Homo sapiens: one gene and its partners. The protein of the gene in region 2 interacts with the protein of the main gene of each other region in a pairwise test. Each region holds a gene or a part of one and is shown on either strand. Other genes may lie near its edges.

Region 1 (3,500 bases), about 58 Mb from region 2:
GAAGTATTTTTCCCATTGCCCATGCAGGGAAATTATATAAATTTTATGTCTGCACCAAAGGTATTATGTTTAAAGAGATAACAGTTTCTGTTCTGGGAGAAAAATCTGAGGAAACACAATCAATTTTTTGTTTCCCACCAAGCAGGTAAAAGTAGCTTCCTTATACCTGGCCACGTGAGCCACTCAGAAAACCCCAAGGGGCTCCATTCTTTTCCTTGAAGGAAACGGTGTTTGTGAGTTTCAGGAGCCTCATGCAACCGGCACGTTCCTCCACATTGTCCTTTGGTGACTTGAGGTTGAGAAGGAACAATATTTCTCTTCCTAACTTCAATAAGAGGCTCAGAGTCCCAGAGAGTTTAGTTAACTTCCTTGAGGTCATGTGTTAAATAAGGAAGGAAGGAGACAAAACAGCTTTCTGGGCACCTGATTCCCCCTCTTGCCCACAGGACTCTGCTGTTGTTTTCATTCTGTGGGCAGAAAATGCTTAAAAAAAAAAAAAGTCCATTGCCTCTGGATATTTGTATTAAAACAAATTTTTTATCTTTGGAATCAGGGAAAGATGGAATAGAAACTTGTTTTGTTTTGTTTGAGGCTGAGTCTTGCTCTGTTGTCCAGGCAGGAGTGCAGTGGTACGATCGTAGCTCTCCGCAGCTTTGATCTCCTGGGCTCCTGCAATCCGCCCAGCTCAGCCTCCTGAGTACCTGGGACCACAGGTGTGTGCCACCATACCTAGCTAATTTTTAAATTTTTTTTTTGTGTGTGTGGAAGCAGGGGTTTTACTATGTTGCCCAGGCTGGTCTTGAACTCCTGGACTCAAGCAGTCCTTCTGCCTTGACCTCCCAAAGTGCTGGGATTATAGAGGAATAGAAACTTACATTGAGTATTGGCCTCTGCCAGTCTGGCTTTAGAAATTGAGGCAACCTTTCTTTCCCTCCCTTTGTTCCTTCCTTAAACATGGTAGAGTGGGTTCAAATCCTGCCTCTCACTAGCTGTGTGGCCATGGGCAAGTGACTTTACCTCTCTGTGCTTCAGTTTCCCCATCTGTAGACGGGGGTGCGGGGCAATAACGCCCACCTCAGGGCCTGCTGAGGATGAAATATGTGTGTGTGCTGCCTGGAGCCGTGCCTGCACCTGTAAGCCATAGGTTAGGATTCCTGCTGAATGGATTGACTGCCCTTATTTGAGCTCTGGAAAGCTTAGGCAATAGGAGGAAATTTCTTTCATGAGATAATTTCCTCATCAGAATATTTCCAAATTCTGCTTTATGTAAACCAGCGTCTTCCTGTGAAGGGTTGAGTTTTAACTCCATTTTTGGCAAACATTGGTTGTCAGGCGGTCTGAGGTTCCTGCCTGTGTGTGCCAAAGGTGGATTATGTAGGTTAAGAGGCATTATTTGGGGAACTCTACTTGGTTGCTGTAAGAAGCAGCCTGTCTATATGGAAAAGAGATCAGTAAGACGGGGGTTGGCAAAACGACCCTGGAGCCAGGCGCCTGTTTTAAGTTTTACGGGAACACAGCCACGCCTGTTGGTTTTTGGATTCTCTGTGGCTGTCTTCTCATTCCAAGGGCAGAGTTGAGCAGTTGCAACAGAGACGCCATGGCTCATCAGGATGAAAGTATGTGGCCGGGTGTGTGGTGGCTTCCACCTGTAATCCCAGCAATTTGGGAGGCGGAGGTGGAAGGATCACTTGAGGCCAGCAGTTCAAGACCAGCCTGTGCAACATAGCAAGACCCCATCTCTACAAAAACAAACAAAACACAGCAACAAAAAGACTAAAAGATCTACTATCTGTCCCTTTGCAAAAAAAGTTCACCAAGCCCATCTAAGACTTTGAAAGACTCCCAAATGACCCCAGATTTGAAAATAATACTCAAAGGGGCTCTGTCTGTAGGAGGAGCCTTGGCATTGGCTGGCATGTTAATTTCCTAGGGGTGTCATCACAAATTACAACACACCTAGTGTTTAAAACAACAGATATTAACTCTCACAATTCTAGAGGCCAGAAGTGCAAAATCAAAATGTCAGCAGGGGCCGGGTGTGGTGGCTCTCGCCTGTAATCCCAGCACTTGGGGAGGCCAAGGCGGGTGGATCACTTGAGGTCAGGAGTTTGAGACCAGCCTGGCCAACACGGTGAAACCCCAACTCTCCTAATAATAAAAAAATTAGCTGGGCCTGGTGGCATGCGCCTGCAATCCCAGCTACTCAGGAGGCTGAGGCAGGAGAATTGCTTGAACCCAGGAGGAGGGAGAATTGCTTGAACCCTGGGCGACAGAGCGAGACTCCATCTCAAAAACAAAACAAAACAAAACCAAAAACTAAAATGTCAGCAGGGCCACGCTCCCTCCTAAGGCTTCAGGGAGAATCATTTTTTGCCTCCTCCAGCTTCTAGTAGGTCCAGGTGTCCTTGGCTTATGGCCTCATCACTCCAGCTTCTGCCTCTGTCTTCACATTTCCTTCTGCCCTCTCTGTATCTCTGTGTGTCCTCTCCTCTTCTTCTAAGGTCATTGGGTTTTAGGGGTCCGCCTGGATAATCCAAGATGATCCCATCTCAAAATTCCTAATTATACTGGCAAAGACCCTTTTTACAAAGAAGGACATGAACATGGTTTTGGCAGCCAGTGTTCACCCTGTTGTGATCAGTAACGCGCTCCGTGTGTCTCTCTCTCCTCCCAGGTGCATAGCGGGCTGCTGCTTCATCCCCTTCTGCGTGGATGCCCTGCAGGACGTGGACCATTACTGTCCCAACTGCAGAGCTCTCCTGGGCACCTACAAGCGTTTGTAGGACTCAGCCAGACGTGGAGGGAGCCGGGTGCCGCAGGAAGTCCTTTCCACCTCTCATCCAGCTTCACGCCTGGTGGAGGTTCTGCCCTGGTGGTCTCACCTCTCCAGGGGGCCCACCTTCATGTCTTCTTTTGGGGGGAATACGTCGCAAAACTAACAAATCTCCAAACCCCAGAAATTGCTGCTTGGAGTCGTGCATAGGACTTGCAAAGACATTCCCCTTGAGTGTCAGTTCCACGGTTTCCTGCCTCCCTGAGACCCTGAGTCCTGCCATCTAACTGTGATCATTGCCCTATCCGAATATCTTCCTGTGATCTGCCATCAGTGGCTCTTTTTTCCTGCTTCCATGGGCCTTTCTGGTGGCAGTCTCAAACTGAGAAGCCACAGTTGCCTTATTTTTGAGGCTGTTCTGCCCAGAGCTCGGCTGAACCAGCCTTTAGTGCCTACCATTATCTTATCCGTCTCTTCCCGTCCCTGATGACAAAGATCTTGCCTTACAGACTTTACAGGCTTGGCTTTGAGATTCTGTAACTGCAGACTTCATTAGCACACAGATTCACTTTAATTTCTTAATTTTTTTTTTAAATACAAGGAGGGGGCTATTAACACCCAGTACAGACATATCCACAAGGTCGTAAATGCATGCTAGAAAAATAGGGCTGGATCTTATCACTGCCCTGTCTCCCCTTGTTTCTCTGTGCCAGATCTTCAGTGCCCC
Region 2 (3,500 bases):
CTTTAGTCTTTATCTCCACGCTTCCATACGTCTGAGGTTCAGTCGGCGCTGGGGGCAGGAGCAGGAGGAGGTGGTGGTGAGGATGATTTCAAAGACTCCGGTGTCTGCAGGTCACTGTGAGGTTTTCAGGGCCTCACTCTAGGTCCTCCAGCAGGCTGGGTCTGGGTGTGCGAAGTGGGCTCTGCTGATCTGGTGGTCCTGCGCGGTAACGGCCACGCGGCCTGGCCGGGAGCCACCCCTGAGCAGTGGGTCTCAGACTCCACCCATGGCTGCTCTTTGGTCTCAGGCTGCTGACTGACTGGCGTTTCACCCGAGGCGTGGAAGAGCAGACCAAAGCCTTCCTGGATGGCTTCAACGAGGTGGCCCCGCTGGAGTGGCTGCGCTACTTTGACGAGAAAGAGCTGGAGGTGAGTGTCTGAGGTTGCTGGGACCCTGAGCCCCTGCCTCTGGGGCGATCCTGCTCTGTGATACGCTCACTGTGTACCCACAGACACTCAGCGTAAAACTCCCACTTCGGCAGGGCAGATGGGTTTGATTTGGGACCCACCCTTCCCCAGACACTTGTTTCAAGAAAGCAGGGACTTACATTACCCATATTATTAACGCTGACACCAAAAATAGCTAGTTGAATATGTTTGGGGTAATGTCAAGTGCTAGCGAGTGGACGATGCGCGGGGAGGGACCTGCCGGGGATGCTGACTGCCGCCTCTCCCCAGCTGATGCTGTGCGGCATGCAGGAGATAGACATGAGCGACTGGCAGAAGAGCACCATCTACCGGCACTACACCAAGAACAGCAAGCAGATCCAGTGGTTCTGGCAGGTGGGTCCCGGGCCCAGGCCTTGGCAGGGACATTTGGGCCATCAACCAAAGGAAACGGGTCCTGAGGAGGCCTCACGCGCAAGGACCTTCAGCTTTGGCCCTGTCCTTGCCTCCCACACCTTGCAAAAGGAGACGATAGACCAGCCTTGGGATGAACGGGGACAGTTCCAGCTGAGTGGTGGCCAGTGGATGTGACAGGAGGTCGTCAGTGGTCAGCCTTGGGCCAGCTGGTGTGCAGGGACAGACCTGCAGGCAGACAGCAGCTGCCACTGGTTGAGAGGTCCCCTGCCAGCCAGATGGGACAGGAAGGCAGGGGCTTGGCTCCAGAAACCAGAAAGAGCTGTCATCCTATGTATAATTAATGTGTTGATTCTTTTATACGTATGGGTTTTGTTGTTGTCGTTATGAAATACAGCATACAAAAAAAAATAGCGATTACAGGTATTCTTAGTACATGTCTGTGTGCATATGTACGTATACAAATTTTTTGTGGAGGTGAAATTTGTATAACATACAATTAACTATTAATTTTTTTTTTTTCAATAGAGACAGGGTCTTGCTATGGTGCCCAGCCTGGTCCTGAACTCCTGGGCTCAAGCAGTCCTTCCATCTCACCCTCCCAAAGTGCTGGGATTACAGGCGTGAGCCACTGTGCCCAACCCATTTAAGTTTTTTAAGATACACAATTCAGTGGCTTTCCACTTTGGGTTCCTTGGCTTCCCACCCAGGCCGAGGTGGGCAGATCACTTGAGGTCAGGAGTTCAAGACCAGCCTGGCCAAAATAGTGAAACCCTCTTTCTACTAACAATATAAAAAATTAGCCAGGCATGGTGGTGGACACCTGTAATCCCAGCTACTCGGGAAGCTGATGCATGAGAATCACTTGAACCTGGGAGGTGGAGACTGCAGTGAGCTGGACCGTGCCACTGCTCTGCAGTGAGCTGGACCGTGCCACTGCACTCCAGCCTGGGCGACAGAGCAGTGGCTTCCAGTACATTCACAGTGTTGTGCACCTGGCACCACTATCTAATTCTGGAACATTTCATCTCCCCAAAAACCTTATACCCATTAAGCAGTCACTCCCATATTTAGTCATCTCTAAAAGCAGAACGTGGATGGGAAGAGAATACCCAGCCTGAGGTGTCCCTGAGACCCAGAGATGTCCCATGGACTGGTGGGAATCTCATGCACACACAGCCTCTTAGCAAAAGCACTTCTGGGGTTTCTCAGGTTGGAGGCTGTCATCCCCTGGCCAACCTGGCTTTGTGTTCTCAGCCCCAAAGAGGGGCCCCGCTGAGCTAGAGAGCTCCACGTTCGGGCAAAGTACTGGGCCCCGTGGGTTGCCTGACTGTGCCTTGACTTGCGGACTTCCAGGTGGTGAAGGAGATGGACAACGAGAAGAGGATCCGGCTGCTGCAGTTTGTCACCGGTACCTGCCGCCTGCCCGTCGGGGGATTTGCCGAACTCATCGGTATGTTTTCTCTCGCCCTCTGGCGTCCTGGCTGGCAGTGCGGACAGCTCAGAGGGAGGGGGAAACCTAGTCTCTTCCTGGAAGCACGTCAGTGGGATGGAGAAGAGCTGTGGCCTCTGCATCCTGGGGCCGAGCCCATCTGTGGGTGGAGCCGGAGGATCCTGCTTTGGGAAGGGACGTCTCTGCTGACGTCGGCGTGTTTTACCTTGGATCACAGGTAGCAACGGACCACAGAAGTTTTGCATTGACAAAGTTGGCAAGGAAACCTGGCTGCCCAGAAGCCACACCTGGTGAGCCTGCTGGTTTTAGTGGGAGGTCGGGGGGCCTCAGACCCGATGAGCTCCTGGGACAGCCCAGTGGGTGTAGCAGCTTCATAGCCTCGAGTCTGGCAGCTTTTGCGTGGCCCTGGGGTGTTGGGTTGGAGAGATGGGGCTGTGATGGGCATCTGATCTACCGGGTTTTACATATGAAGCACTTCTGTTCCAGTAGTCCAAGAGCTACTGCCCCAAGTGTCCCCCGCAACCAATTTCCAGCTGTCCTGGCCCCTCCCTTAACACCCCATGGTCCAGGCACCTGCAATGTGAAGGCCTGACTGGCAGCCCCTGAGCCCTAGCCAGTGTGGTGCAAGCCCTGTGGCCCTGCTGCAGGCAGGCATGGTGGGGCTATCAGAGCCCTGGCCTCCTAGGGCTGACTGTCGTGCTTCCCCACTCTCAATAGCTTCAACCGTCTGGATCTTCCACCCTACAAGAGCTACGAACAGCTGAGAGAGAAGCTGCTGTATGCCATTGAGGAGACCGAGGGCTTTGGACAGGAGTAACCGAGGCCGCCCCTCCCACGCCCCCCAGCGCACATGTAGTCCTGAGTCCTCCCTGCCTGAGAGGCCACTGGCCCCGCAGCCCTTGGGAGGCCCCCGTGGATGTGGCCCTGTGTGGGACCACACTGTCATCTCGCTGCTGGCAGAAAAGCCTGATCCCAGGAGGCCCTGCAGTTCCCCCGACCCGCGGATGGCAGTCTGGAATAAAGCCCCCTAGTTGCCTTTGGCCCCACCTTTGCAAAGTTCCAGAGGGCTGACCCTCTCTGCAAAACTCTCCCCTGTCCTCTAGACCCCACCCTGGGTGTATGTGAGTGTGCAAGGGAAGGTGTTGCATCCCCAGGGGCTGCCGCAGAGGCCGGAGACCTCCTGGACTAGTTCGGCGAGGAGACTGGCC
Region 3 (3,500 bases), on a different chromosome or scaffold from region 2:
GCTGATGGAGAACACAGAGGACTGGCGGCCGCGGCCGGGGACAGGCCAGTCGCGTTCCTTCCGCATCCTTGCCCACCTCACAGGCACCGAGTTCAGTAAGTGCCAGCCCAGGGCAGGGGGTACTTTCCTCGCCCCCAGCCCAGGCGTGATCCCTGACCCTGTGTCTTTTTTGGTCAATGCCTGCCTCTGCCCTCTCAGTGCAAGACCCGGATGAGGAGCACCTGAAGAAATCAAGGTACAGGGACGGGCACCAGCCCCTCTCCCACCTCCTGCCTCTTCCATTCCAGCTACTGCCCTGTGTCTACTCCTGAGGCTCCCAGCTGGGGCTCTCAATTCTCCCTTCCTTCCTTCCTTCCTTCCTTCCTTCCTTCCTTCCTTCCTTCCTTCCTTCCCTTCCTCCTTCCTTCCTTCTTTCATTTCTTCCCTCCCTCCTTCCTTCCCTCCTCCCTCCCTGCCTCCCTTCCATCTCTCCTTCCTTCCACTTCTTCCTCCCTCTCTCTCTGCCCCTCAGGGAAAAGTATGTCCTGGAGCTGCAGAGCCCACGCTACACCCGCCTCCGGGACTGGCACCACCAGCGCTCTGCCCACGTGCTCAACGTGCAGTCGTAGCCCGGCCCTCTCCAGCCGGCTGCCCTCTCTGCCTCCCTCTTTCTGTTCCTCCTGCCCAGGGCACCCCCTTAGTGCCTCCAGCTTCTGCCTACCTCACCCCCCCTTTCGTGCCCCTGGCCTGAGCCTCCTGCTGGCCTGGCCCTGGCCGCCCACCTGGGTTCATCTGACACTGCCTTCCCTCTTTGCCCTGTGGTACTGCTGTCTGCCAGGTCTGTGCTGCCTTGGGCATGGAATAAACATTCTCAGCCCTGCTTGCTCTGCCTGTCTTCTATCTTTGTGGACCTGGTTTGCATTTGGGGTGTGGGGGTGTTTCGTGGTTCGGACTGTTTGGGCCCTGCCGTCCTCGTTTTCAGTGGGAGGGGGTACCTGGCAAAGGGGCCCTGCCCTGCCATCACAGATGGCTTCCTGGCATGAGGGGAACCCCAGGAGCTGCCTCAGAAGCGGGAGCCCTGCCTCGTCTCCCAGCTAGAGACCGCACACCAGCTAACTGGACATTGCTAGGAGAAGCTGCCCTTCCCATCCCTACCCCAGTGGGACCTGGAATCCAACTCGGCAGTTTCCACGCCCCCAGTCATCTCCCGTGGGGCCAGCAGGACCCAGGTTGGGGGGTGGGGCCATGTCAGGAAGCTCAGCCATGCAGGGCCTTGAATGGCAGATCTTGCAGCCAGGTGCCCAGGACAGAAGCCCCAGCCCCAGCCTCATCTACACCCCAGGAGCCCTGGCCTGGTGAGAGGGAGTGGGCTCGGGCCTGGGCAAGGGTGGGCAGCCTCCAGGGGCATGGGGGTGGTGGGCTTCTCTCAGCTGCCTGGGGCTCCACCCCCGTCCTTTGGGGTCCCTGGGCACCCCTTTAGAGTCACTTTCCCCGGCAGGCCCTACCGCCCCCAGCCCTACCAGCCGCCCGCCCTGGGCTGTGGACCCTGCGTTTGCCGAGCGCTATGCCCCGGACAAAACGAGCACAGTGCTGACCCGGCACAGCCAGCCGGCCACGCCCACGCCGCTGCAGAGCCGCACCTCCATTGTGCAGGCAGCTGCCGGAGGGGTGCCAGGAGGGGGCAGCAACAACGGCAAGACTCCCGTGTGTCACCAGTGCCACAAGGTCATCCGGTGGGTGGCCTGTTCCTGTCCGACCCTGGCTTTCCCATCCTGCAGCCCAGCCCCACCTGTCTGCCCACCTGTCTTGCCTCAGCTGCGACTGGGGGGAATAAGGATTCAGTTCTCAGCTGGAGTAGGAGTAGGGACCTGGGCTGGGTCCTCCCATTCTTAATCCCACGCTACCTACCCCAGCCCACCCACAACAACTGCTAGCAGCATCTGCCGTGGCGAAATAGCCGAAGGGCCAACCATAGGCTGAAGCTGCACCCCTACCTTTGCTGCTCTCTGGGCAAAGAGGGGCCTGCCCCCTCCCAGCGCGTCTGCCCCTCCCTCCTGCTCTCTGTCTCCCTCTGCTCTCAGAGCATACAGGCCTGGAGCCACTCCCTCTGTGCACTGCCCCGTGGGGCCAAGCAGCATCAAACACCCCCCAGCATCAGCGTGCCGGATTCTAGAGCCTTCCTAATTCGCAGGCCTGGCCTGCTCTCATCTCTGTCAGCTCTTTTTTTTTTTTTTTTGAAACAGAGTCTCACTGTGTTGCCCACGTTGGCGTGCAGTGGCGCGATCTCGGCTCACTGCAACCTCTGCCTCCTGGGTTCAAGAGATTCTCCTGCCTCAGCCTCCTGAGTAGCTGGGATTACAGGCACCCGCCACCATGCCTGGCTAATTTTGTATTTTTAGTAGAGACGGGGTTTTACCATGTTGGCCAGGCTGGTCTCAAACTCCTCACCTCAGGTGATCTCAGGCCTGCCTTGGCCTCCCAAAGTGCTGGGACTACAGGTGTGAGCCACTGTGCCCAGCCGACTCTATCAGCTCTTGCCAGGTAGAACAGGCAGGCCAGCAGGACAGGGCAGCTCCAGGGTTTGCCCAGGGGCGGCTCAGCTTTTATGAGGCTCCAGTCGTCAGCCCTTCCTCCCGGGGTCCTCCCTGCTCTAAAGCTGCCTCTCCTGTCACCAGCAGTTCAGTGTGGCGGACTGGCTCTGTAAGCTTCACGGCTGCCACGGTCACTTCCCAAGCCTGTCTTCTATCCTATGTGGAAAATGGGGAGAATGAACTGTCCCTCCCAAGGCCTCCTGGTGGGTGGTCAGTCAACCTGAAGGGGGCCAAGACCCCCACCTCTCTGCGTGTGCTCCCTCTGACCGCTCTCGCCTCCCTGCAGGGGCCGCTACCTGGTGGCGCTGGGCCACGCGTACCACCCGGAGGAGTTTGTGTGTAGCCAGTGTGGGAAGGTCCTGGAAGAGGGTGGCTTCTTTGAGGAGAAGGGCGCCATCTTCTGCCCACCATGCTATGACGTGCGCTATGCACCCAGCTGTGCCAAGTGCAAGAAGAAGATTACAGGCGTGAGTAGGGCTGGCTGGCGGGGAGGTGGTCCCAAGCCTGTCAGTGGGAACGAGGGCTGCTGGGAAACCCACAGTCCAGGTCTCTCCCCGAGTGAGCCCTCCGGGTCCTTACCAGCGTAATAAATGGGCTGCTGTACTGGCCTCACCCTGCATTAGTCAGGATGCTCTTAACAAATGACCATGTTCCTGCTCAGAAACCGCCCAAGGCTGCAAAGAGCAGGAGGACCAAGCCAGGAGAAGCCCTGGGCCCTCCTGACTCCCACTTTGGGCTCTCCCTGCCCTGGTGAAATGACAGAACGGCCAACTTGACACGCTGAAGCTGCTCTGTCTCATGCGTCCTCCTCATTTCTGGATCCAGAGCCAGGGCTGCCAGGAGTAGCCAGAGAGCTCTGTGTGGTGATGTTCATATTAGTGAGGTTTACCTTGACCACGAGCAGTGGGAAACTCAAAATAATGGTGGCTT
Region 4 (3,500 bases), on a different chromosome or scaffold from region 2:
GCATTTTAAAAAGACTGAAAGGACACATTAAAAGAATGTTATCAATGATTATTTCTGGATAGTGGTGGTAGAAGGATTAATTTTAATTTTCTTTATATTTTTCAGTATTTCTATAATAAACAAGTATGACTTACGTAATCAAAAGAAATAATAAATGTTATATGTCAATGCCTGTCATATTTTGGGGAAGATTTAATCTGCTGACTCATCCATTTGGTAGGGCCATGGCACAATGGTTTCAAGGTGTGGTTCTCACATTCTGCTGCACACTATAATCACCAGGGAGCTTTTAAATATCCTGATTCCCAGTCTGCACCCCAGACCAATTATGCCAGAGACTCCGGGAAGGGACCCAGGCATTGGTGGTTTTTAAAGCTCCGCAGATGATTCCAGTACGTGAGCAAGTTTAAAGAATGGTGATTATGAGGTTCCTGAGGTCACAGGGTCAAAGGTCTCTTATCTCTGCGTAAAGGAAAAAAATGCCCCATTTCCAGACATAATAAGGTCTGTACGATGAGATTCAATTTTAAAAGTGGGTGGTTCTACTGAGTTCATCCATAACCACTATAAAACGCATCAAGTGAGCATATTCTACTAAAAATGCCTATTATAATTCGGAGAGGGCAAACTCTAGGCAATCCTCACATTTCCTTTCATACTCTGAAAGTTTGTCCCTCAGATCAAGGTTTCTCAACTGTGGATGGGGGCATTGGAAGGGTCTCAGATGGGCTTCAGCAGGCTCTTCAAGCCATGTGACAGCAGGCAAATTTTGAGTTTATGCCTGAGTATTTTTGTAAAGATAGTCTATACCTTTATTTGATTCTCCAAGGGATTTATGTACCAGAGATTACAAAGAGCAAAATGGACTTTTTAAACATTAGTCTTTAATGAATAGGGAAATGGCCTCAAAGCCTGGCGAATGAAGAGAGAAGTACAGGAGAAGTTCATTAGCTCTTGAAGAACTTCCCCTCTTGTTGGAATAACAGAGCCCTCCTGCGGGAGGTGGGGACTTATTTTCCCAATTAAGACCGCCGAAATTCTCTCTAGGGAGGCAGGGTAGTGGACTGGCAAGTACACTTCAGAGATGGAAGATGAAAGTTCTTGCCTCTTCTTTATTAACTAGCTCGTGACCATTTAACTTTATTAGCTACTCAGTGTCCTCATCTCTAAAACACCAACAGAAATATTGGTCCCACTTTCCCCCGGGGTTTACACGAGGTCACGATCACACGTGTCGTGTGCCACTTAAAAGCACAAAGCAGTCTGAGTTTACTTATGCCTGCTTTTGTTAGACTATCTTGACTGACAGGATTATTGGTACATTTGGGCAGGCTGGGTTTTGGAAGCAACTCACTCCACGTCTTGTCATACCTGATCGGCCTGGCGGGTCCCTCACTGGAGGTGGGGGTCTCTCACTGGGCGGGGGAGGAAGAGGACCTGAACGTCCTGGCGAAGGTAACGGGGGCGTGGACGAACTGAGGGACAGATTCCGCTGTGGGAGTCTTGGGGTTTCGTCATTGCCGCTGGAACTTGGAGGCAGAGGAGGCGGCCCGGGCCTGCTGGGAGGTGGCGGCGGAGGTGGGGCCTGTGAGGAGGCCGAAGGCCGCGGAGTGGAAGGCACTGGAGGCTTGTTGTTCTGAGGAGGAGGAGGGGGAACCGCTTCCCTGTGGATGGAGGGCCTGTTGCCCACTGGAGGAGGTGGTGGAGGGGGTTTGTCATCCAAGGCCCTGCTGGGGGTAGGCGGCAGGGGAGGCCGGTTGGAGAAGGGCGAGGAGGAGCTCAAGGGGGACTGACGTATTGAGCCTCCTCCCAAAGCAGTGCCGCGGTTTCCAGGGAAAGGGGGAGGAGTGGGCCCGGGGCTGGGCTGCCTGGGGCCTCCGGGCACTGGTGGGGACCCCCGGTTGTGCGGACTTGATTGAATGGGTCTTGGAGTACTAGGTACTGGAGGAGGAATGCTATCAGGCTTTGAGCCCACGTCGGGCCTTGGGGGCGGCATTCGGTTCCTCTGAGGCTCTGGGGGACCACTTCTGTGGCCTGGAGAAGGCACAGGAAACCTCCCTGGGCCACTTGGGGGTGAAAAGGGTTTCGCAGATGTGGATCTTCCTCCCGGTGGCAACAATGGTGGTCGGCTTCCTCCAGAATCTGAAGAACAGGAAAACAAACATCAGTTAGGAAATCAGGAACCCTGAAGAAATCAGAGAGCTAGAGTCTGTTCCCAGTGACTGGAAGTCCCTTCCTCAGAGGGCTATAAAATACAGGAAACTATTATTTATATAAATTGGGTTTTGTTGGTCCTTCTTGGGAGCAGAAAATCGACCATAGCTCTATTTACCTGCGAGTCCCAACTTCTACAGCCTATGAGCTTTCAAAAGGATTCTGCAAATATCTCTTAGCATTATGTATAGGCAAGAGCCAGGATGAAGTGGGCGAGAGTTCTGGTGAGATGCCTATTCATTATGAGAGGACAAGAACAAGATGGCATTGGTAGAATCATGATTTTCATTTTTCCTCATCACCATCTCTGTCTCCCAGCCCTTGTACCTCTCAGTTTTGAAACTAAGTCAGCTGTCTTAGGTGAAAAAATTAATTATCCCAATGTAAATCTCCAAATGTGAGGGCTTATCTAGTCCCTATGAAGAGAAATGCCCCAAAAAAAGTGGAAAACTGTAAGGGGAAATTATAAGAAAAGAGTTATGACTGCAATAAGAAAAAACTAAGAAAGGAAAAAGAACCATCAGTAAAGTTTAATTGTAAGAGTTGACACCAGTGGATGGAATTCATCTACAAAGAAGCAGGCAACTACACAACTTTTTTTTGGTACCACGTCAACCTCTGCTTCAGTATTGGCAGGACAGAATAATCCCATAACTGCTCTGGTTCAACAAGGGAGAAACTAAAGGGGGAACCAAAGAGATGGAAAATTTCAAACCACCATCCCAGAATCTCTTGGAACTCAAGGTAATTCTGAAAAAAAAAAAAAAAATCTACCCATTTATGAGTTAATAAGTGTACCAAATAATTTTGAGCACTTGCTATGCGCCTGCCATTAATCTAGAGACTAGAGACAGAGGAGTAAACAGAATAGAAAAGATTCTGCATTCCTGTAGTTTACATTCTTGTGGGGGGAGATAAACAATAAACCAGGAAATAAATACTTTCAGATAATTATATGTACTAAAAAGACACTAAAATAGGCCGATGAGATCAAGAGTGCTTGGAGAGGCCAGGGTACATGGAGTGGCTGGGGACAGCTCTTCTGAGAATGTGACATGTGAGCTGAGGCCTGACAAGAAGGAGTCAGCCACGGAAAGATGAGGAAGACCAGCACTTTGGGCAGGGTTGGCCAGCAGGTGCAGAGGCCCTGAGGTGGGAAAGAGCTTCAAGTTCAAAAACGGGCCCATGTGCCCGGGGCACAGTGAGAATGGGAGAGATCCATGGGAAGTGGAGCCTGAGTGGCCAGCAGGGGTTAGTCACAAGGAGCCCTGCAGGACAGAAGGGGT
Region 5 (3,500 bases), on a different chromosome or scaffold from region 2:
GGACAAGGAATTGTTCTCAGCAGTATCTTTTCTCCTGCTTATCTCATTTATTATTACAAATTCAACCATTTTATTGTTCTATCCATCGCTTTTAAATTGGGGTAGAAGTTACAGTGAAAAACACAAATCTTAAGTGTGCAGTTCATTATAAGTTTTGACCAATGTATACATTCATTTTGACAAATGTATACACTCATGTTATACTCCAAACAATTTCTATACTCCAAACAAAATATTGTTTGTTGTACTCCAAACAATATTTCTGTCACCCTAAAAAGTTCTTTAGTGTCTCTTTTCAGGCAGTCTCTACTCTCTCATAGGCAACCACTGTTCCTGTTTCTTTCACCATGGGTTAGTTTTGCATGTCCTTGAACTTCATGTAGATGGAGTCACACGGTTTGAAAGTTTTTGTGTCTGACTTATTTTGCCCAGTGTAATGTTGTTGAAATTCATCCATATTTTTATATTGTATCTGTTGTTTGTTCCTTTTTTCAGGACACTATTTCATTTTATAAAAATACCAGAATTTTTTTGTTTTTTTGTTCTCTTGTTGATGGACAGTTAGGTTGTTTCCAGTTTGGGGGTATTATGAACAAAGCTGCTGTGAGCATTATTGTTTTGGGGAGGCAGTTTTCATTTCTCTTGAGTGAATACCTAGGCACGGAGCTGCTGGATGATGCGGTGCTAAAGAGTTTTCCAAAGTGGTTGGGGAAGTGAGTATTTTTAATTTAAAATGGATAGTCAGTTCCTTCATTAAAGGGCTTAAACTCACCAGTGACTGGTGAATTTCTACCAGTGGCTCTCCACGTCTCCACCAGCAAAGAGAGTTTCTCTCTTTTTAAAGTTGTGCCAGTCTGATGAAGCCAGAGTGAGAGCTTGCTGTCACTCTAATTTGTAGTTCCCTGAGTGCTTAAGATGGCATCATCATTTTTTAAAAAGCTCTCCAGAAAATTCAAATGTACAGGCAGGATTAAGAATGCTGCTATTGAAAGGTGACAGGGGGAAGACAAAGATCTGACCTCTTCAGGCAGTAGCACCAAGAATGCAGGGTGGATGTTCATTATTTAGGATCAGGGAGACTTCTACAAATTTGTTTGTGGATAGGCTAAAGTGACTGATGAGAAGTGAGAATAAGTTTTTAGAAATATTGGGCAGAGATGGGATTAAGAATGGAGGTGAAGGTATTAGATTCTGCAAGGATCAGGAATAGGGGAGAAGGAACGCACAGTGCACAGTTGCCTGGAATCATTTTGCACAGTGCCTGAGGTTTCTTTGTATCCAGTGGGAAAATTAATTGGTATTCGTGATCATTTGTATAATGAGTAAACTTTCAAATAGGGTTGTTTAAAGGGACTGAATTTCACCCATCTGGAAAATTTTGCCATCCAGACTGGCTCACTCCAGAGGTGCCAGGTAGCTGAAGTTTCTGAAGAGCTGGACATCTATGTTATATGGTGTGTGCAGCCCACATAGGCCTGGTTTCCCACTTAACTAAACGCTTTGTATCAAGAATGGACTTGTTTGGGAAGGGAATATTTTGTAAGATGATGCCTAGTATTGTCTGAGAGAGATAGAGCTTTCAGGTTAAGATCTTGAGGCTTGCACCAAGTGCAAAAAATGAAAATCAGAGTGCATTGTGTTGGGGAAAAAAAAGTGAGTTTGGTTCCTTTTGGGGAAGAGTGGGACTCATGTACACGAGCAGAATGGAGGCTGATACTTCATCTCATTTAGCTGCTTGTTTGTTAGTACTAAACAGGATTAGTATGAAAACAGGAAGTTCTCAGCTGGAGACTTTAAAGGAGAAAGGAGGAATATTAAAATTCCCTTTGTTTTGTGAAAGCCACTGAAATTTAGGTTTTGGTTGTTACCATGCTATACCCTAGCCCATCCTGACTGATAGAGGCATTGCCTGACACAGAACCCTGCCATCATCTCATTCTACAGGATTGGTGCTCCATGGTAGAGCCAGGGTATTTTTTCTTAATAATTAAAGTATTTTTTTTTACCTTTCCTCCGTTAAGGTGGACTTAGGTGAAGGCAAGATTTGCTTCTGTTGTGAAGAATTTCAACCAGCCAAGTGCACAGACAAAGAAAATGCCTTGAAACTCTTTCCGGTTCAGCCCTGTAGTGCTGTTCACCTTCTACTTAAGGTACCTCAAACAGATTCCCACCCGCACGGTAAATACACCACGGAGCCCCCAAAGAAGGCAAACTTACTTGAAATATTCCTGTTCTATTACCTCCCTCAAACAATTAAGCTGCTGAAAGCGCATGTGAGTGACCCCAGAGACAGAATTGAATGCAGAAAGAACCACAGATTATTGTGTGTGTTAAATTATGTATGGACAGCTTTCTTTGTGTTGAAGAACTGTAAGATAGTAAAAAATGGAAAGGAGCCTGACTATATATATGTATATGTATACACATACACACATATTTCCACATATAAACATATGCATACGTACATATGTATACCTACACACACATATACGGTGTAGCTTTTAGCAAAACCTTTAAGTCGCACACTCGTGTGTCATTGTTCTGATGCTCATTTGTTTGCTTACATGGGTCATATGGGCCACTGAGTACTACCAGTCTGCAACACGTAGACTAAGGAGAGAGATTGGCCAGAAAATATGGGGGAATTGAAGCACCTTAGCTCTTGTTTAATAAGCAACAACTATAATAAGCCAAAGGTATTAAACAAACAGATGATCCCAGTTGAAGAGAAATACAAAATTAGCCTTCATCAGGGAATTGGATAAAAATTGTGCCCTGACTTAAGGAACATTAGCTCAGTGAGTGACAAAATCAACTGGTGAACCCTGAGGTATGGCTTTTTGAGAGTCCACTTCTGCCGGTTTTCTTTAGATATTTGTTTTGGGTTTCATTTTGGTGGGGAGGAAGAATCTCCAAGGAAAGAGAGAACTGTTCCAAGCTACCAGCTCTGGGTTGTGTGGGATGTGGAAATGGCCTGCTTTCCATGGCTTCTGCATTTTTGGTAGCTGAGTCACCCCCAAACTTTCTGAGCCAGGACTTAGCTTGGGGAAAGCCCCACTCAAGGAGCCAGGACTGTACCAACAGAAGCGTTTGGAATGGCCTTTGCTATTTTGAGATGTGTGTTTAGTGGAGAGAAGTCCTATTTACACTCTGGCTGGGCCAGCTCCTTCAGTGTCCTCGTCGTGTGCATGGGGCAGCACAGCCAATTGCTCTTGAAATAGAATTAGTGGCCACAAATTAAGCAGTGTGCTGTGCTGGTGGGAGGCTGTGGGAGGGAGGAGGCTGGGAATTGCTATCCCTGGGGAAATCAGCCTCAGAAGAGAAGCTCACTGCTCTCCTGGAAGGAATGTTTCTCGACAGTATTCTGATGCTTGCAAAAAGAAATACTATCATACCACGTTGTTCTGTGACAGAAAGCTTCTAAGATAAGTTTTTGGAATTAAGAAGTACACATTATTGCATGAGGGTCATAATAATAGCCAGCATTTATTTGGGCACTT
Region 6 (3,500 bases), on a different chromosome or scaffold from region 2:
CTGAAGGTGGTCAGGAGGGCAAAGGTCATGGTGGCCATTGTTATATGGTGGTGGTGGGGAGAGGTGCATGCCTTCTTCTTGACACTCTCTGGTGACCCTCTCGGTGGAACCTGCAGACCCTTGATGGGTCCCTTTGTTCCCTTGGGCCTCCTGAGTCCCCAGCCAGGGCGCTGGGCACTTTGCTGGGAGCTTGGCATGGGGTCCAGCAGCCCCATTGCTACCTAGTTCCTTACCAGCCCAGGGCGTCTGCCTGCTACTTCCCTGCCTGGAAGGAAGGCCTTCCGCCTGGAGCGTTCCTGGTGTGGCCTCCGCTGCCTCTCAGACTCTCACACAAGCTCAGCTCCCTGTCGCGTCCTCTCAGGGCCAGGATTCTCCTTATCACAAGCTTAGACTGTCTGAGTAACTAATTGGATTTGTGTCTGCCTCCACACAGGACCCTAAGACCCGTGGGGCTGAGACTCCTTCTGTCCTGGTCACAGCTGCACCCTAGCCCCTCGCATGGTGCGGTCACACCCAGGCCAGCCACTGACTAGCCCCGAAGGGGAGCAAACAGGAGGCCGGCCACCTGACTGAGGCCCCATGTCTTCTCCCTGCAGGCCGTCCCCTTTTCTGGGACTATCCAAGGGGGTCTCCAGGACGGATTTCAGATCACTGTCAATGGGGCCGTTCTCAGCTCCAGTGGAACCAGGTGTGTGTATATGGATGGAAACGTTTCACTCCAGCCTCGTCCCTTAGTAAAGCCACTGTGCCTGTGAGCCTCGGTTAGTTCAAACAACAACATCCAAGCTCACGTGCCTGGCGCAGGGGAGACCCAATGCATCCTTAACCCATGCCACAGGACAGCACTCCACAGGCACAACCTGCACCCAGGGATGCCATTAACCTGGACTCCAGGATGAATGGGGCCCTGGGAGCTGAAGGTCTAAGGAAGGAGTGGGATGGTCAGAGTTGGATGATTATGTTCTGGGCTGAACCTTGCACACTGTGACTGAGAGTTGCAAAAATCAAACTTCCTCCGTTTCCCATAACTGCTTTCATCCACTCTGAAGCTCTCCTTCTGCTGACATGAAAATACTGAAAATTGACATCCGAAGTAATTTGGTCTCTTTCGGTTTCAAGGCCTTTTCTGGAAACTACTAAGTCCATTCAAAATACTAACATTGTATCAGGGCTGTTTCCCACCCCTTCCTCCCTCCCAAGGTGGGCTGTCTGGGAACAGAGAGGAGCTCACGTGGCTTGTCAGTGGCTGGGAGGGCCCCCGACCCTCACGCAGGCCTGGCTGACCCCTGCCGAGGCATCCTGACTGGGTGGCACAGAGGTGTGCAGCTCTCTCCTGGTTTAGTGAGGGACCACGGGTGGCTGCCTGCTGAAGTCTGCGGGGCCCACAGAAGAGCCTCTGGACTCATGGCTCTCTCTCGGAAGCCTCTCTGCCTCAGTCCCAGTGGACCTCTCTTAAGACCCTCTGGGCCTCGTAGATGCCAGCTCAACCTCAGCTCCGCCACCTAGATTCTTGATGACCTCCTCCGCCATTGCTATCCTGCTGTCGGACTTCTCTGAGAGCCTGCAGTGCCCCCAGGAGATGCCAAGGGCAGGGAGGCCCTGATCCCCCTGAATCCTCCAACCGGGGGAATCAGAACCATGCCTCTGATCTTCCACCCCTTCCTCTTTCCCTCTCCCTCTGTTTCCCCCACCTCCCAGCACCAGGAGGGCTTCCCACTCCCATCCTGTTGCACAGAGACAGATCCTACCTCAGAGGGCCCTCTCCTCTCAGGAGCTTTCTGTCTCTCCCTTCCTTGGGGCAGGAATTTCCAAAGGGCCACAGGAATGAAGCTGAAGGTCTCCAAAGGAAAAAAATACATGCAGTGATATTTCAAATGCAATCTTCTCCATTTATTCATTTAATTAATTTATTTTTTTCTTTAGAGACAGGGACTTTTTTCTTTCACCCAGGCTGGAGTGCAGTGGTACGATCATAGCTCACTGCAGCCTCGACTTCCTGGGCTCAAGGGATCCTCCCATCTCATCCCCCAGAGCAGCTGGGACTATAGACATGCATCATGATGTCTAGCTAATTAAATATATATATATATCTTTTTGTTTTTTAAGTAGAGATGAGATCTCGCTCTGTTGCTCAGGCTGGTCTTCAACTCCTGGGCTCAAGTGATCCACCCACCTTGGCGTCCCAAAGTGCTGTGATTACAGGCGTGAGGCACTGCGCCCGGCCCCGATTTCACATGCTCTTTACATTTGTTCTCTTCTTTCGCACTTAATCAGGCATGTGCTGGCCTCCAACAAGTGTCCACTGGCACAGAAGCCTCTCTCTTCTAGGTGTGCTTAACAACTTCCATCTTTGTTACCAACTGGTAATCACTTTCCAGGACCTATGCTTCTTGTTTGCTAATGCCAGCACTTTCCCTTAGCCATTTTCTACTTATGTTTAGAAAATCGTGCTGTAAAGGCAAAATGCAATAATCGCACAAAAACACATTGGATCCAAATTAGAGAAACAAAAACGATGCCAACCAAGCAGTCTCTGCCACGCAGGTTGTATGCAAGATCCCAGACAAACACAGGGCAGAGGCACCGAGGCCCTCCTGTGCCTGTCACTGGCAATAATCCATGCCACAGAAGACTATTTGCTTTTCCTGGGCCTAGGTTTGCTGTGGACTTTCAGACGGGCTTCAGTGGAAACGACATTGCCTTCCACTTCAACCCTCGGTTTGAAGACGGAGGGTATGTGGTGTGCAACACGAGGCAGAAAGGAAGATGGGGGCCCGAGGAGAGGAAGATGCACATGCCCTTCCAGAAGGGGATGCCCTTTGACCTCTGCTTCCTGGTGCAGAGCTCAGATTTCAAGGTAAGCAGGAATCCCCTCCCCACCTCTCGCCCACGGGACTCCCAGCCCTATCAGGTGAATGTGAATGGCCTTTTAAGTAACCACTTTAATTGACATTCAGCCAGAGTGACACCACCATACAGATAACATGACCATTTCCTTGTAAGGGTGTTACCCATGGCTGTGTAGTCTCCTTACGCACCTTCACCTGAATCTACAGGTGCACCTCCTGCTTCTTTTACTCTGAAAATAAGAACTAGAGGAGTCATCACGTTGCTGTTAGGTGTTGTGTGTCTTTGAATTCCAAGCTCATTCCATTCCTCTGCTATCACCATACCTCCTCTCCAGGTCCCTGGTAACATTTATTTTTCAGCGACATTGTTCCAGCCTTTATCCAGAGTCTATTACGGTTATAGTTCTGTAAGCACATTGCAAATTACCTTTGCAAGCACAGTAGGTCTCTGGGCTTGAGAAGCCGGTGGGTAACTCAGTCTGAATATGCTTATCTGAGATAAGGATGTTCCCATCCATTCAGTATGCAACCCGATGTCACCTCTCCTCTGCTCCCCGTGAGCATTTTATGCATATTTAAATAATACCCCTGCAGTCCTAAAAAGGAATGAGATCATGTCCTTTACAGGAACATGGATGGAGCTGGAAGCCG
Region 7 (3,500 bases), on a different chromosome or scaffold from region 2:
GATCAGAAGATCATGGCTGGACAATCAGGTCCAGCAGAAGCTGGTCACAAGGGAGGACAGACGCAGCAGAAGTACACACAGCACAAGACCCAGGTGGGCAGGGGTTGGGGGAGACAGTGGCAGGCCACCTGCACCTCCAGCCCCTCTTCTCCCTGCAGGGCTGAGTCAGGGCCAAAGATGGCCACCTCCCTGCCTGGTCCTGGTGGGGGTCACGTGAGGAAAAGGTGACTCAGACTCTGACACCTGCTGAGGGAGCAGCCAGGCAGGAGGAGTACCGGTGTGCCGAGCGCCCAGGGTCAGCCATACCTGCCTCACCTGTGGTCTCCCCAGCAGGCCCCACCTGTGGCCCAGGCCTTCTGCCTGCCACCCAGAGCAGCAGGATTCCTCTCACAATCCTTGGCTCAGCCGCAGCCCCACGTGGCTCTCCACATGCATCCTGCCTACCCCTCGGCAGCTGCCAGGCCCAGTCCCCCATCCCTGAGGGTGGCCCTTGCTTCCTGCTGCACGCCCTCTACCCCCGGGCGCTGCCAGGGCCTGTCCTCAGCCTCCATTCCAGCCCAGCCTTGCCACCCCAACCTCGGTCCATTTTTTGTTTTTTTGTTGTTGTTGTTGTTGTTGTTGTTTTTGAGACACGGTCTCACTCCCGCCGCCCAGGCTAGTGTGCAGTGGCACGATCTCGGCTCACTGCAGCCTTAACCTCCTGTGTTCAAGCGATCCACCCATCTCAGCCCCGCAAGTAGCTAGGACTACAGGCACGTGCCACCACACCTGGGTTTTGTTTTTTGTTTTTTGTTTTTCTTATAGAGACAGGGTTTTGCCATGCTGTCCAGGCTGGTCTCAAACTCCTAAGCTCAAGCAATCCACCTGCCTCAGCCTCCCAAAGTGTTGGGATTACAGGCATGAGCCACGGTACCCAGCTCTGCTCTGATTTTGAATCCATGCTCTGTTAGCCAGGCCCTCCTCGGGCCAGACCCCATACTGTGTTCATGCTGAAAATCCGGAACACCAGTAATCCTCCTGTGGACCAGCAGACAGCCCAACAGAAGCACATGGGCATGAGCAGGCACAGAGGAGGGTGGGCGTGGCTGAAGCAAGGAGAGGAGGCCTGGGGACTGGAAATGCTGCCGTGCTTTTAACACTCCTGACAGACTGCACATCCCCACCTTGAATCCCGCAAATGCTGGGACCCAGCTGGGTGCAGTGGCTCACACCTGTAATCCCAGCACTGTGGGAGGCCAAGGCGGGTGGATCACTTGAGGTCAGGAGTTCAAGACCAGCCTGGCTGACATGGTGAAACCCCATCTCTACTAAAAATACAAAAAAGGCCGGGCACGGTGGCTCATGCCTGTAATCCCAGCACTTCGGGAGGCCAAGGCAGGCAGATCACCTGAGGTCAGGAGTTCCAGACCAGCCTGACCGACATGGAGAAACCCCATCTCTACTAGAAATACGAAATTAGCTGGGCATGGTGGCACATGCCTGTAATCCCAGCTACCAGGGAGGCTGAGGCAGGAGAATCGCTTGAACCTGGGAGGCGGAGGTTGCAGTGAGCCGAGATCGCGCCACTGCACTCCAGCCTGAGCAACAAGAGTGAAACTCCATCTCAAAAAAAAAATACAAAAATTAGCCAGGCATGGTGGCACACGCCTGTAATCCCAGCTACTTGGGAGGCTGAGGCATGAGGATCACTTAAACCCAGGAGGCAGAGGTTGCAGTGAGCTGAGATCGCACAAATGCACTTTAGCCTGGGTGACAGAGCGAGACTTCATCTCAAAAAGAAAAAAAAAAGAAAAATGCTGGAACCCACAGAGGATGCCGGAAAGGGGGCAGTGGTCCCCAGACTAACCCGTATGCCAGCCAAGCACCCTCAAGTGATCCCAGCTGGTGGCACAGAACTGAAGATTAACCCTGCCCTCACTGTCCAGATTCCTAACCCACAACGCTGTGAGATATAATAAAATGGTTGTGTTAACTGTTTTAAGAATGGTGTCTGACTTGAGGTGACCGCGACTTTTACGTAGCAGTAGGTAACTGGAACAGATGTCCAACCTCACTAGAAATTACAGAAAACCCGGCCGGGCGCAGTGGCTCAGCCTGTAATCCCAGCACTGTGGGAGGCCGAGGCGGGCAGATCACGAGGTCAGGAGATCGAGATCATCCTGGCTGACACGGTGAAACCCCCGTCTCTACTAAAAATACAAAAAATTAGCCGGGTGTGGTGGCGGGCGCCTGTAGTCCCAGCTACTCAGGAGGCTGAGGCAGGAGAATGGCGTGAACCCGGAAGGTGGAGCTTGCAGGGAAAGCCCAAATGACCTACCATTTCAATCCATCAGATTGACAAATATTAAATGTCTCGACACAGCTGGGCGCAGTGGCTCACGCCTGTAATCCCAACACTTTGGGGGGCCAAGGCGAGCGGATTGCTTGAGGCCAGAAGTGTGACAGCAGCCTAGGTAACACGGTGAAACCCCATCTCTACCAAAACTACCAAAGATTAGCTGGGTGTGGTGGCGCGTGCCCCTGGTCCCAGTCACTCAGGAGGCTGTGGTGGGAGCCCCGGAGGAAGGAGTTGCAGTGAGCCAAGATTGTACCACTGCACTCCAGTCTGGGTGACAAAGTGAGACCTCATCTCAAATAAAATCAATGTCTTGGGGCCAGGCACAGTGGCTCACGCCTGTAATCCCAGCACTTTAAGAGGCTGAGGCGGGCGGATCACCTGAGGTTCGGAGTTCCAGGCCCGCCTGACCAACACGGAGAAACCCCGTCTCTACTAAAAATACAAAATTAGCCAGGCCTGGTGGCGCGTGCCTGTAGTCCCAGCTACTCGGGAGTCTGAGGCAGAAGAATCACTTGAACCAGGGAGGCAGAGGTTGCGGTGAGCAGCTGAGATTGCACCACTGCACTCCAGCCTGGGTAACAAGAGCAACGTAAATAAATAAATAAATAAATAAATGTCTCAACACACGTTGGAGGGAGGTGGAACACAAACACCCCTTATTCCAGTCAAACTGCAGACAAGTACGAGGTTCTGGCAAAGAGTGGGACAGGTCTACTGTAATTTTACCTGTGCATACCAGGAGACCCAGAATTCCGCTTAGAATCTCATGGTATTTAACCGGGAGCCTCACACGCCACTGCTCCTACTAGCAAAGCATCGCGAAAACCGTCATGGGACATTGACTCCACAAAAACAAACAGTATGCAACTGACCCTTGGGTCATCCTAAGGGTCCAGGTTCTGTGATCTTCCCAACGCCCATGCAGATGGCCCCGTTTTGCACATACACCAAGGCTCTTTGAGATGACTCTGCCAGAGTAAGCAGCCTCCAACCACTGTCCAAAGTGAAACCTGTCCCGAGCTGCCCCACACACTCCTCAGTAAGAACACGGGAGGCAAGGGGCTCCCGCACAGCTGCCAGCTGCTTCCCTGCCAAAACACCTGGAGCTGCTCCTCTGCCTCTCAGCAACTGCTTCAGGTCAGGCTGGGTGAATTTCCCAGGG

What was found.
Region 1: the proteins of WWP2 (region 2) and LITAF interact in binary tests that used the Homo sapiens proteins (3 or more experiments, as listed by UniProt).
Region 3: the proteins of WWP2 (region 2) and PDLIM7 interact in binary tests that used the Homo sapiens proteins (3 or more experiments, as listed by UniProt).
Region 4: the proteins of WWP2 (region 2) and WIPF1 interact in binary tests that used the Homo sapiens proteins (3 or more experiments, as listed by UniProt).
Region 5: the proteins of WWP2 (region 2) and ENTREP1 interact in binary tests that used the Homo sapiens proteins (3 or more experiments, as listed by UniProt).
Region 6: the proteins of WWP2 (region 2) and LGALS9B interact in binary tests that used the Homo sapiens proteins (3 or more experiments, as listed by UniProt).
Region 7: the proteins of WWP2 (region 2) and ARRDC1 interact in binary tests that used the Homo sapiens proteins (3 or more experiments, as listed by UniProt).

What each region holds. Positions count from the first base shown.
Region 1 is NC_000016.10:11,548,920-11,552,419, reverse strand, and holds part of LITAF (lipopolysaccharide-induced tumor necrosis factor-alpha factor), read left to right. Parts: intron 1-615; coding exon of another isoform or gene 616-697; exon of another isoform or gene 698-713; intron 714-2,674; coding exon 2,675-2,783; 3' UTR 2,784-3,500.
Region 2 is NC_000016.10:69,936,832-69,940,331, forward strand, and holds part of WWP2 (NEDD4-like E3 ubiquitin-protein ligase WWP2), read left to right. Parts: intron 1-286; coding exon 287-407; intron 408-716; coding exon 717-821; intron 822-2,195; coding exon 2,196-2,292; intron 2,293-2,509; coding exon 2,510-2,582; intron 2,583-3,009; coding exon 3,010-3,109; 3' UTR 3,110-3,500. UniProt on the Homo sapiens protein: E3 ubiquitin-protein ligase which accepts ubiquitin from an E2 ubiquitin-conjugating enzyme in the form of a thioester and then directly transfers the ubiquitin to targeted substrates.
Region 3 is NC_000005.10:177,487,605-177,491,104, reverse strand, and holds part of PDLIM7 (PDZ and LIM domain protein 7), read left to right. Parts: coding exon 1-95; intron 96-198; coding exon 199-235; intron 236-511; coding exon of another isoform or gene 512-608; exon of another isoform or gene 609-859; intron 860-1,073; exon of another isoform or gene 1,074-1,272; coding exon 1,273-1,334; intron 1,335-1,477; coding exon 1,478-1,712; intron 1,713-2,856; coding exon 2,857-3,037; intron 3,038-3,500. UniProt on the Homo sapiens protein: May function as a scaffold on which the coordinated assembly of proteins can occur. May play a role as an adapter that, via its PDZ domain, localizes LIM-binding proteins to actin filaments of both skeletal muscle and nonmuscle tissues.
Region 4 is NC_000002.12:174,570,305-174,573,804, forward strand, and holds part of WIPF1 (WAS/WASL-interacting protein family member 1), read right to left. Parts: intron 2,143-3,500; coding exon 1,372-2,142; coding exon of another isoform or gene 1,289-1,371; exon of another isoform or gene 865-1,288; intron 1-864. UniProt on the Homo sapiens protein: Plays a role in the reorganization of the actin cytoskeleton. Contributes with NCK1 and GRB2 in the recruitment and activation of WASL.
Region 5 is NC_000009.12:69,373,715-69,377,214, forward strand, and holds part of ENTREP1 (endosomal transmembrane epsin interactor 1), read left to right. Parts: intron 1-2,021; coding exon 2,022-2,150; intron 2,151-3,500. UniProt on the Homo sapiens protein: Functions as an activator of the E3 ubiquitin protein ligase ITCH in the ubiquitination of the CXCL12-activated CXCR4 receptor. Thereby, triggers CXCR4 endocytosis and desensitization, negatively regulating the CXCL12/CXCR4 signaling pathway.
Region 6 is NC_000017.11:20,457,540-20,461,039, reverse strand, and holds part of LGALS9B (galectin-9B), read left to right. Parts: intron 1-596; coding exon 597-688; intron 689-2,655; coding exon 2,656-2,857; intron 2,858-3,500.
Region 7 is NC_000009.12:137,608,686-137,612,185, reverse strand, and holds part of ARRDC1 (arrestin domain-containing protein 1), read right to left. Parts: intron 1-3,500. UniProt on the Homo sapiens protein: Functions as an adapter recruiting ubiquitin-protein ligases to their specific substrates. Through an ubiquitination-dependent mechanism plays for instance a role in the incorporation of SLC11A2 into extracellular vesicles.